Regions from separate parts of the Homo sapiens genome. Here region 2 is linked to region 1. Evidence: fine-mapped expression QTL. A gene starts in region 1. The other region holds a variant in brackets. All regions are shown on one strand. Distances are between the middles of the regions.

Region 1 (5,528 bases):
TTAAATCACTATTTAAAGCAATCTGAAAATTCAAAGTTTTTAATTCCTTTCTAAAGCAAGAAAAAAACTATTCAGGATTTATATATTTAATTAGTGAATATGTCGTAAGTATTCCTCATCTTCCAAAACTTGCTTTTGGAATAACAAAGTATGTTGTCAATAGAAATATCCAATTTCCTGTCACCTAAAACTACAGTTGACTTTTCATTTGTGAAAACTGCTATTTCAGTGAGCCAATGCTGATTAATAGAACACTGGAATGAAAAAGGACTGGATTAGTAGCCTAACTGGACAGATGTTCCAGTTGAAGCACTTGCAATCCTCCAACATCAAACTACTTCAGAACTTTTCTATTTACCATAGCTTACTATGGCTAAAATGGTCCTAAGCAAACTTTCAAAGAAGGCAAAGCTTTCTGACATCTACTTTCTGCCTCCTCTCTCCTAGTCTCCCTAGGCTCTGATGCCAACACATAGAAGCATTCCAAGTTCCCTAAAGTAGATGGGTTAGTATTTCCTCCAGAATTGTCTCCACTTCTTCTTCTTCCTAACTTCCAAAGCCATACCTAAACGACTGCTCCCAACTGTGTTTATCAGATTACTGCAGGTAAATTCCTACCAACTACTAATGCCAAAATATCACACCACAAATGACTTGCTAATTGCAGAAGGAAATGCTTACAATGGAAAGATAGCTTGTCACCACCTTATCTAAGAGATCAAATTTAGGATTATTAATAAGACAAGCCTACTTTATGTGCCTTTGGATGTTGTATGCAATGAAGCATACTGCATGGCTTATGAAGTATTCCTGTCAAAAAAATATTAAACCTAAATATATTCAAGCCTTTAGACCCAAATCCAAGTTTAGAGAAAACAGAGAGGATAGGGGGAACAAATTTAAACACTATCAGGAGGAACTATCACTAAAACATGGAATATGGGTTATTCTGAAAGACTACAGACCAGGTCTCTTCAAAAGGTCAATTTCGCCCAGTGCTGTGGCTCACATCTGTAATCCCAGCACTTTGGGAGGCCGAGGCAGGTGGATCACTTGAACCCAGGAGTTTGACACCAGCCTAGGTAACACGGCAAAACCCCATCTCTACAAAAAATACAAAAATTAGCTGAGTGTGGTGGCGTGCTCCTGGGTTCCCAGCTACTCAGGAGGCCGAGGTGGGAGGATGGCTTGAGCCCAGGAAGGAGGTCAAGGATGCAGCGAGCCAAGACTGCTCCACAGCGCTCCATCCTGGGACACAGAGCAAGTACCTATCTCAAAAAAAAAAAAAAAAAAAAAAGACTGAAAAGGAATTTTGAAGAAATGGGGGGAAATGTGAATATATACTACACCACGTTAGATTTTAAGGAATATTCTTCACTTTCTTAAGTGTGATTGCGGTATTGTTACACAGAAAAATGGCCTTGATCTCTTACAAAATACATACTGACACACATACAGCATTTAGGGCTGAACTGTCATATCCGTAATGCACTTTGAAACGTTCAGAAAACAGAATGTGAGATAAGTGGAAAAATGCAAATATGGCAAAAAGGTAGCGTTAAAACTAAGTGTTCAAATGGGCTATTTAACTTTCCAATATTTTCGAAAAAAATAGCAAGTTGCAAAGTTAAGAAATTAACTCGAGAATAAAAATATAAAAGCCAGGCTAGATGGTGCACACCTGTAATCCCAGCTACGGAGGCTGAGGTGAGAGGTCAGCTTGAGCCCAGGAGTCTGAGACCAGCCTGGGCAACATAACAACCGCATTTCAAAAGTAAAGTATAAAAATATCAACGAAAGGGCAACTGAGTAATGTTTCTTAAAATCTTTAAGTGAGCCTCCTTGCCTATTCTCATCTACCTCATTCCCACAAAAATGGTATATACTAGAGTTGAGCACCGGAGAAGGAGTCAGAAGACCTAAGGTTCTATTAATATAATTGGCCTTGGCTCTTCCTAGTCAGTGACCTCATTAAAGTCCTCTCCCTGAGGCTCTGTTTCCTCGCCTGCAAAATGATTCCAGCAACCCAGACCACTTCAAAAGGGGCTAAGAGATACAAATCAGGGGTTATCAATGAAAGGCACAAAAGCAAGACACAATTACAACAGTATTTGTAGTGATGTTAAAACATCAGAGGCACACAGCCCTAACAATGGTATAAGCAAACCAGTGCCTTCCCTGGTTAAGTTTCTGCGTGGAGACAGCTGGAGTTGGCACAGCAGTCCCCCAAAGCAGGACACCTTACAGATGCTAAGAGGCAGCTTTTGTGCTTTAAAACTGTCCTTCTAGCGTTCCATTTTATGTTTCATGGCACTAAAAAAGACAAATTCTGTCCAAACCTGAAAATAAAGCCAAATATTTAAGATGACAGATTTTTTTTTTTTTAACAAATCTTCGCAAACAAAGGCCTTTGGCCAAAGGTCTCCCGTGCTTGCAGAAGCGGGTTCACCTTGACGTTTTTCCTCTCCAGCAGATTTCTCCTTAAAAGCGTTAAAACTTGCGATAAGTTGGGAGGAATTCCTTCCATCGCTGGAGCAGGCTAAAACCTCAGAGTGAGATCATTCTTTCCGTCTCAGTAAGTGAACCTTGCAAAGCTCAGAAAATTTTGTCTCCAACTCCACGTTTCTCCTCAGGGCCCTTCTTCTGTAGACAATAACGGGAATTCTATGGCAGAGGAGGGGAGGTCTCTTTGACAAAAATGAGGGTGCAAACGTGGAACGACCGGTCATCTGGGCAAAATGAGGGGCCCTGTGCCTGCAAATCCCGAATCCCCTTTGGTCTCCTTTCCTACGACTGAAGAGACACGGGGGTGGGCTGTGGTGTGAGGACCATGGGTCTTGGCCAAACATCGGCACAAAATGTACCAAAGGGAGTTGCCTCCAGAGAGAAAAGCCAAAACCAGGCTGGGGACAAACAGGCGCACACGCCTGGGAGAGGAGGTGGCGGAGGAGCAGAAGGCGAAGGCCTGCGCGGCCCAGGCCTGCAGCAGCCGAGGCGGCTGCCGCGTCGCGCCGGGATACCTCCTCCCCCGCCTGGGCCGACGCAAGATGGCGGTCCGGCCGCCGCCGCGCAGCCGGTCTCCTCCCCCGCGCTCTGGGCGCTCCCGACGACCCGCGCCGGCCTCAAGACCCCCAGTCCAGCGCCCCCGGAGTGAGGCGGCGCAGGCCGCGCGGGAGGGCCTCTGCCTGCTGCAGCGCAGGGCGGGCGGGGGCGGGGGGGCGCTTACCGTGAGCGGAGCGGATCGGCCTGACTGGAGCCCTGAGGAGGAGGAGAAAGAGGAGGAGGAAAAGGAGGAGCACGAAAAACTACACTGCGGCGACGGCGGCGGCTCCCATTGCGGAGCTGGCAGCCGAGCCGTGGAAAGGGGGGGGCTCTCGTGCAGCCGGCGCGCTGCCTCATGGGTAGGCTCCGGGTCAGCCTCCCCGTGTCCGAGCTCCCTGTCTTCTCGCCGACGCGGGAGGCGGGCACCGGCATGTGCGCCGCGTCGCGGGCCCTCGAAGACCCACGCGCCCCGCCACGCGCCGGTCCGGGGCGAGGGCCAGGGCCCTGCCTCCATGTGGGTGCGAGCTGCTGGCTGGTGTGGCCGGGAGGCAGCCCCAAAATCCGGACTGCTCGGAATTTGCAGGCGAGGAGCCGTGCGTTCCGGGCCCTCCGCGTGTGTAACGACCCCCAGTCCGTTGGCTTGGAAAGTGAAAAGGTCATGGGATACAGCCGCCGTTCGAAAGAAGCAAGGGGCCTGTGGGTCGAAGACTAAACCAGGAGAGAAAAAGGAATCGTCCGTTTCTTTAAATAACGAGCTGATTTTACCAAGTCTGTTTTAAATGTGTGGTTTTGCTTGCGTTCCCTGTCGAGGTCAAATACGAAGAGACGAATCTGTACATTTAGCGTTTTATTTGGGACACAGGAATTGCAAGTTCAGGTTATTTACACATACAGGGTGGTCTTCAGTATGTCAGAAGAACAAAGAGGAGTTAGGGGGTTTTATTTTTTAAAAAAAGTTATCTATTGTTTTTCTAGAAAGTTCGTTGACATTTAGTAAAGTTTTGGGTAGCTGGTTAGTTCTGACTGGTGAGGGAAGGGGCTTGGTAAAGCTTGCCCTACAGCTGCAGCAGGTTCTTTGAGAAGCTAAAACCTGAAGATAAAACCTGTTTCAGGTTACAGCAGGCGGTTTCAGCAGCCAGGCTTGCTGAGAATTCCATTCTTAGAGCAATGTTATGTGCCCTGAGGGCTTCCCCCAGCACTGGCTTCTCCATTCTTTTAGTTGGCTATGACAAGAGTGACCCAATTAGAATGATTAACTTGCACACTCTAATTCCTAACTCTGCCATCTGCATATTAACCTGTAATAGCATTTTTTAAAGTTTGACAACGAGAAGTATAAGAAATTTACAAGAAGAACACTTGCCAAGATACTGCTTGCGTAAATACTTGCTAAAGGTTGTATTCTGATCTGTAAGGAAAGTTTCCTAAACTGATTGTCTTCTCAAGAGCAATGGCATTACTGGTGCAGCTTGTGAGTGACCAAGACTTGAAATCTTGCCTGTTAGGATCCATAACAGACACCCTGTTCAATCACTGAATCTTGCTAATTCATCTTCCTATTCGAATTCAGTTTCTTCTCTCTCATCTGGCTTTCCCCAGTTTTTCTCAAGTGTTTATCATTACTGTAGTCTCCATATTGATTACTGCCCCCAAATTAATCTTCCCCAAAGACCACCTGGATCACTCCTACAGATCTGGTGTACTTGGAGGTAACCATGACCTATCCTTCTCCCACATGGGCCTGGGATCATCTACCCAGCTTTCCCTTTTCTGCTGGCCCTGAAAAATAAACCTTACAGGAAAAGACAGAAAATAGTCAAAACAGCAAACATGGAAAGTTTAAAAATTCCAAAATCTTGGAACATTCTTAAGACATCGTTTTTCAAATGTCCCTAAAGGTTAGCAAAGCATGCTACAGTGTCAGGTGAAATTACAACAAATTTAAAGATCTCGGTTGGCTTTATTGCAATTCTAGATTCAGGCACCACTTCATTCAGTAAAACAGAATAGGTGTTCCCATGAATGGAGCAGATGTGGTTGGCTTTATAGACAGAAAATGGGCTGAAGAAAGAAGAAACAACAAAAAACAAGTTGGTCTTTTCAAAGTTACTTTCCTTGTAAGGTGGGGCACTGAGACAGAATAATAGAAAGAAAACTGATTGGTTAATACCAGGTTACTCCAGATTAATATTGTAAGAACAACAGCAGCCAGGTGTGGTGGTGTGTACCTGTAGTCCCAGCTACTGAGGAGGCTGAGGCAAGAGGATTCCTTCAGTCCAGGAGTTCAAGGCTGCAATGAGCCATGATCCTGCCACTGCAGTCCAGCCTGAGCAACAGATCAAGACGTTGTCTCAAAAACAAACAAAAACGACTTAAAACAGGGAACTTCATTATCATGGGGATTGAAGGTTTAAACTGGCCTGTTTGGGAAATTAGGCTGTTATCTCTCTCCTGATTTCTCAGAAGGCCACATAACAACTCAGTTT
Region 2 (5,000 bases), 430 kb after region 1:
CAGGAGGTGGAGGTTGCAGTGAGCCGAGACCATGCCATTGCACTCCAGCCTGGGTGACAGAGTGAGACTCAGTCTCAAAAAAAATAAAAAATAAAAAATGTAGTTCACTAATTAAAAAAACTCTACAGGTGAATAGGATGTTCAAAATTGTTTATTGATATGATACATAATTATTTTTAAAAACCTTAGAAATAGACTAGTATCATTTTCATTAAAGTATACATGTCATGCTGACTAATTGACGTAGAAGTTTTACAACTCTAAATCTGACATCTGTTAACCCTTTAGATATGCAAAATAATCCTTGAAATAATAATGCTAGGCCACCGTGGTAGCTCATACCTGTAACGTCAACACTTTGGAAGGCTGAGGTAGGAGGGTTGCTTGAGCCCAGGAGTTTGAGACCAGCCTAGGCCATACTATGAGACCCTGTCTCTACTGAAACTGAAATTTTAGAAAATTAGGCGTGTTGGCAAACACCTATGGTTCCAGCTACTTGGGAGGCTGAGGTGGGAGGATTGCTTGAGCCCAGAAGTTGGAGGCTGCAGTGAGCTGTAATTATGTAACTGTGCTCTAGCCTGTACGACAGAGCGAGACCTTGTCTCAAAATAAATAAATGAATTAATTCAATAAAACTAGTTACTACAAAATAAAACCATTAAAGGATTGTACACTTGCAATTCTGACATACACAGCCTTCCCTGCATGTAATCAAAATGGATCAGAAATCTTCTTGGAACAAGAAGATGGCAGAGACTGAAGGGAACTGCCAACTTAGAATGACTGGCATAGAAGGAATTACTGAAACTCAGGGAAGGTAATTGTGTTCTTCTTTGGCAGGTCCGGTTTCTAAATAGATAGGGAATTTCAGAGAACAACTTCATTCTGTGCTTTGCAAAAAACAGAAGATTGTGGGGAGGGGTCTGGTGGAGAGGGCATGACTTAGAGAGACCTTGAGGCTGCTGCTTCAATCCAGCATGTCAAAGCACCATGTTTGGGGGCCTTAGTTACTGAGCCTCAAAAATACCACATTTGCAAATTCATTTAGTATATTGAATACAAATGAGTGAGTACCCTACTGTTAATTGTTAACGCTGTGAGACTTAACCTCCATTCTCCCTCAAGAACTGGCCCATACTATTACTGATACTTGGCCATGAAAGTTTTGAACTGTGGGTGTATTAGTTCGTTCTCACGCTGCTAATAAAGACATAACCCAAGACTGTGTAATTTATAAAGGAAAGAGGTTTAATTGACTCACAGTTCAACATGGCTGGGGAGACCTCAGGAAACTTACAGTCATGGCAGAAGGGGAAGCAAAAGTGTCCTCCTTCACATGGCAGCAGCAAGGAGAAGTACCGAGCAAAAGGGGAAAAACCCCTTATAAAATCATCAGATCTTGTGAGAACTCACTATCATAAGAACAGCAGCATGGGGGTAACCGCCTCCATGATTCAGTTACCTCCCACCAGGTCCCTCCCACGACATGTCGGGATTATGGGATCTACAATTCAGGGTGAGATTTGGGTGAGGACACAGCCAAACCGTATCAGTGGGTATAGTCACAATAAGAATTTTTTTTTCTTTTTTGTTTTTTGTTTTGAGACGAGTCTCACCCTGTCACCCAGGCTGGAGTACAATGGCACGATCTTGGCTGACCACAACCTCTGCCTCCTGGGTTCAAATGATTCTCTTGCCTCAGCTTCTCGAGTAGCTGGGCTAACAGGCGTGTGCCACCACACTTGGCTAATTTTTGTATTTATAGTAGAGATGAGGTTTCACCATTTTGGCCACGCTGGTCTTGAACTCCTGACCTCAGGTTATCCGCCCGCCTCGGCCTCCCAAAGTGCTGGGATTGCAGGCGTGAGCCACTGCCCCCCACCACAGCAAGAATTCTTACATGTTGCTGGGAAGAATATAAATGGGCGTGGTGACTTCTGAGAATAATAAGGCAATCAATGCCTATAAAGCTGAAAGTTCGCATCCTTTAATCTACCAGTTTCCCTTCTTTGTGTCTATCCTGAAGGAATGTATGT[C/CTGTG]TGTGTGTGTGTGTGTGTGTGTGTGTGTGTGCGTACACGAGATGTGCAAGGATATTTGTTTCAATATTGCTCATGACAAAAAAATATAAAAACTATCTTTCCGTAGGGAAATATATAAACTGGTTTTATTTGTATAATGGAATATTGTATAGCAGTAAAGATGCTCAAACTAGGGATCTGTTATCAACACACAGCTCAAAAACATAATATATGGAAATACAGGTTTCAAGATAAAAACCATGTAATTCCATCTGTTTAAATATATTAAATGCAAACAGTAATGTATATTGTTCGAGAACATGAATATATATTTAAGAGTATAAAACATACATGGTAATCATGCACATCATTATTATGATAATGGTTATCCAGAGGTGTGGTTTGAGCTATGTCTATACTGTATTAATTTTTTTTTTTTTTTGAGGCGGAGTCTTGTTCTGTCACCCAGGCTAGAGTGCAGTGTTGTGATCTTGGCTCACTGCAACCTCCGCCTCCTGGGTTCAAGTGATTCTCCTGCCTCAGCCTCCTGAGTAGCTGGGACTACAGGCGCATACCACCATGCCTGGCTAATTTTTTGTATTTTTAGTAGAGACAGGGTTTCACCTTGTTAGCCAGGATTGTCTTGATCTCCTTACCTCGTGATCCGCCCGCCTTCGCCTCCCAAAGTGCTGGGATTACAGGCGTGAGCCACTGTGCCTGGCCCAATACTGTATTAATTTTTGAGAGAGAAAGAAGAGAAGAAGGTTCAGTCTGAAGCAAACATGGGAAAACATTCTAACTAGTGGGTACATGTATCATATTGTTGGCTATATAAATGTCTTTCATTCTTTTAAATGTGTTTTAAAATACTATACGTTGAAAATAAAGTATTTACATGCTACTTTATATAGCTCAAGTGATCCTCCCACCTCAGCCTCCTGAGTAGCTGGGAATACAGGCATATATCACCATGCTAATTTTTTATTTTTTGTAGAGAGGCTTCACTATTGCCCACGCTAGTCTTGAGCTACTGGACTAAAGCAGTCCTCCCACCTCAGCCTCCCAAAGTGCTGAGATTACAGACGTGAGTCACTACATCCTGCCCAGAATTTGACTCAGACTGACTGAAGTGATAGCAAGTTTTACAAATTATTGAATTGTATCCTCTTATTTCTAATTTGTTCTTTCTATTTTAAAACTGCAATATAATTACCATGAATAGTCTAGCAGTTTGATTGTCTGTCAATAAATGAAGGGTTTTATATAAAGTTAATTTCTTTGTTTTATAGGAAAAACATCAGAGAGAGGCTCATTTTCCCTGTACAGCAGAGATACTGGATTACCAGGCTGTCAAGTAAGTTTAATGATTAAAAAAAGCAATGAGATGGTTTTTAAACACATAAATAAAGGCTCTATTAATAGATGAGATAGAAATTATCCAATTTATTTCACTACTGTTTGTTTAATTTGTAACTAAGTGTTGTTTTTTGCTCTCTTTGCTTAAAATTGTTTCAGTTCCCCAGTTTACCAGGCTGTCTTTATCATCAAAGATTTTCATAACCCACCTCCATTTTAACTGGAAACAAAGCTACCGCTTTCCAAAATGCTTGTCATTTCTGAGAAATTTTTTTGCATATTTTCTCACAGAAAACGTAATTGGTGGTACATAAAGAATATATGATTGATCTGCATAGCTTAAATATCCTGTAATGTCAAACTGATCATTAATATTGGAAGTATTTTGTTTTCAATCCTGCATGTAACCAATTTTTAGGCTTCACACCCTCCCTGACTTGGAATCTTTGTTTCGACTCTCCCACCTTCTCTAGCATTTTGTGCTTCTGCTAATGGGCATCTTTTCTGCCTTTTTCCTCATATCTTTAGACTGAGAATCCTGAACACACAATTCACCTGCAGATTCCCATCAGAATCAAGCCAAAAAGAATAGAAAGGAAAGGCAGAACATATTAAATTTGTTTTCTGCCATCTGCATGCTCTACATGAGGGCCCACCCTAATTTCAGGCATGGGCATGTGAGCCGGTTTTAACTGCCATGCTAATAATACTCCATTTAATACATATTTCATAATTGTGCCTCTAAGAGAGTTTTACATAACATCCTGTTTTGTGATATGCCTTCCCATTATAAAATAATGTATTGTAGTAGGCTGGCCACGGTGGCTCACGCCTGTAATCCCAATACTTTGGGAGACTGAGGTAGGAGAATCACTTGAGCTCAAGAGTTTGAGACCAACCTGGGCAACATAGTGAGACCTTGTCTCTACTTAAAATGTAAAAATCAGCCAGGTGTAGTGGTGCATGCCTGTAGTCTCAGCTGCTTGGGAGGCTGAAGCAGGAGGATCACTTGAGCCCAGGAGTTGAAGGCTGCAGTGACCCATGATTGCACCACTGCTCTCCAACCAGGGTGACAGTAAGACTCTGTCTCAAAAAGAGAGAGAGAGAAAGGAGGGAAGGAGGGAAGAGAAGGAAGGGAGAAGGAAAGGAAGAAAGAGAGAGAGAAAATAAATATATTGTAAAAATTCAGGATCATATATTCCCATGTCCTTAATGGCAAATAGGCATGGTCTGAATAAGTGATTTGTTAAATATCATAGATTTGGGGGTAGTTACTGGACCAACACTCAGATTTCTTGGCTTCAGACCAAGCAGTCTTACTCTATTTTCATCCAAGTGATTTTTTAAAGTTTTAGTGTTGTTAATGATTGCTCTATTTTCCGTTTATGGTTAGCTTTATTTTATTCTAGTCATTTAAAATATATATAGATTAGCATTGTGTCATAGCCAGTGTTTTGCCTTACCAGCTCTTACTAGCTGACAAGAGCCGAATCTGTTAAACTTTTAGGAATTTAGCAAGTATGGTTGACATCACACTGATATCTTAAAATTGGCTATTATGAGCTGGGCACTGTGGTTTATACTTGTAGTCCCAGCTACTTGGAAAGCCAAAGCAGAAGGATCACTTCA

Which allele goes with the higher level. Alleles are on the strand shown, and positions count from the first base shown. SD is a standard deviation of normalised expression in the study named.
For the expression in monocytes after triphosphate RNA of the gene that starts at base 3,278 in region 1, C is the low allele of the variant in region 2 and CTGTG is the other (moderate effect, 0.67 SD a copy in Kim-Hellmuth 2017).

Evidence for each region.
Region 2: its variant is fine-mapped to the expression of ZNF280D in monocytes after triphosphate RNA (Kim-Hellmuth 2017, PIP 0.95).

The regions. Positions count from the first base shown.
Region 1 is chr15:56,730,232-56,735,759 of GRCh38, forward strand. It overlaps ZNF280D (zinc finger protein 280D), which reads right to left and starts at 3,278. Exons shown (of 22, transcript NM_017661.4): 1 at 3,227-3,278. RefSeq lists a silencer at 3,028-3,297.
Region 2 is chr15:57,163,098-57,168,097 of GRCh38, forward strand. TCF12 (transcription factor 12) reads left to right here. Exons shown (of 21, transcript NM_207037.2): 6 at 3,305-3,369. Among named protein-coding and RNA genes, the nearest start is that of SNORD13D, 110 kb to the right of the region's middle. The variant C/CTGTG (reference allele first, on the strand shown) is at 2,037.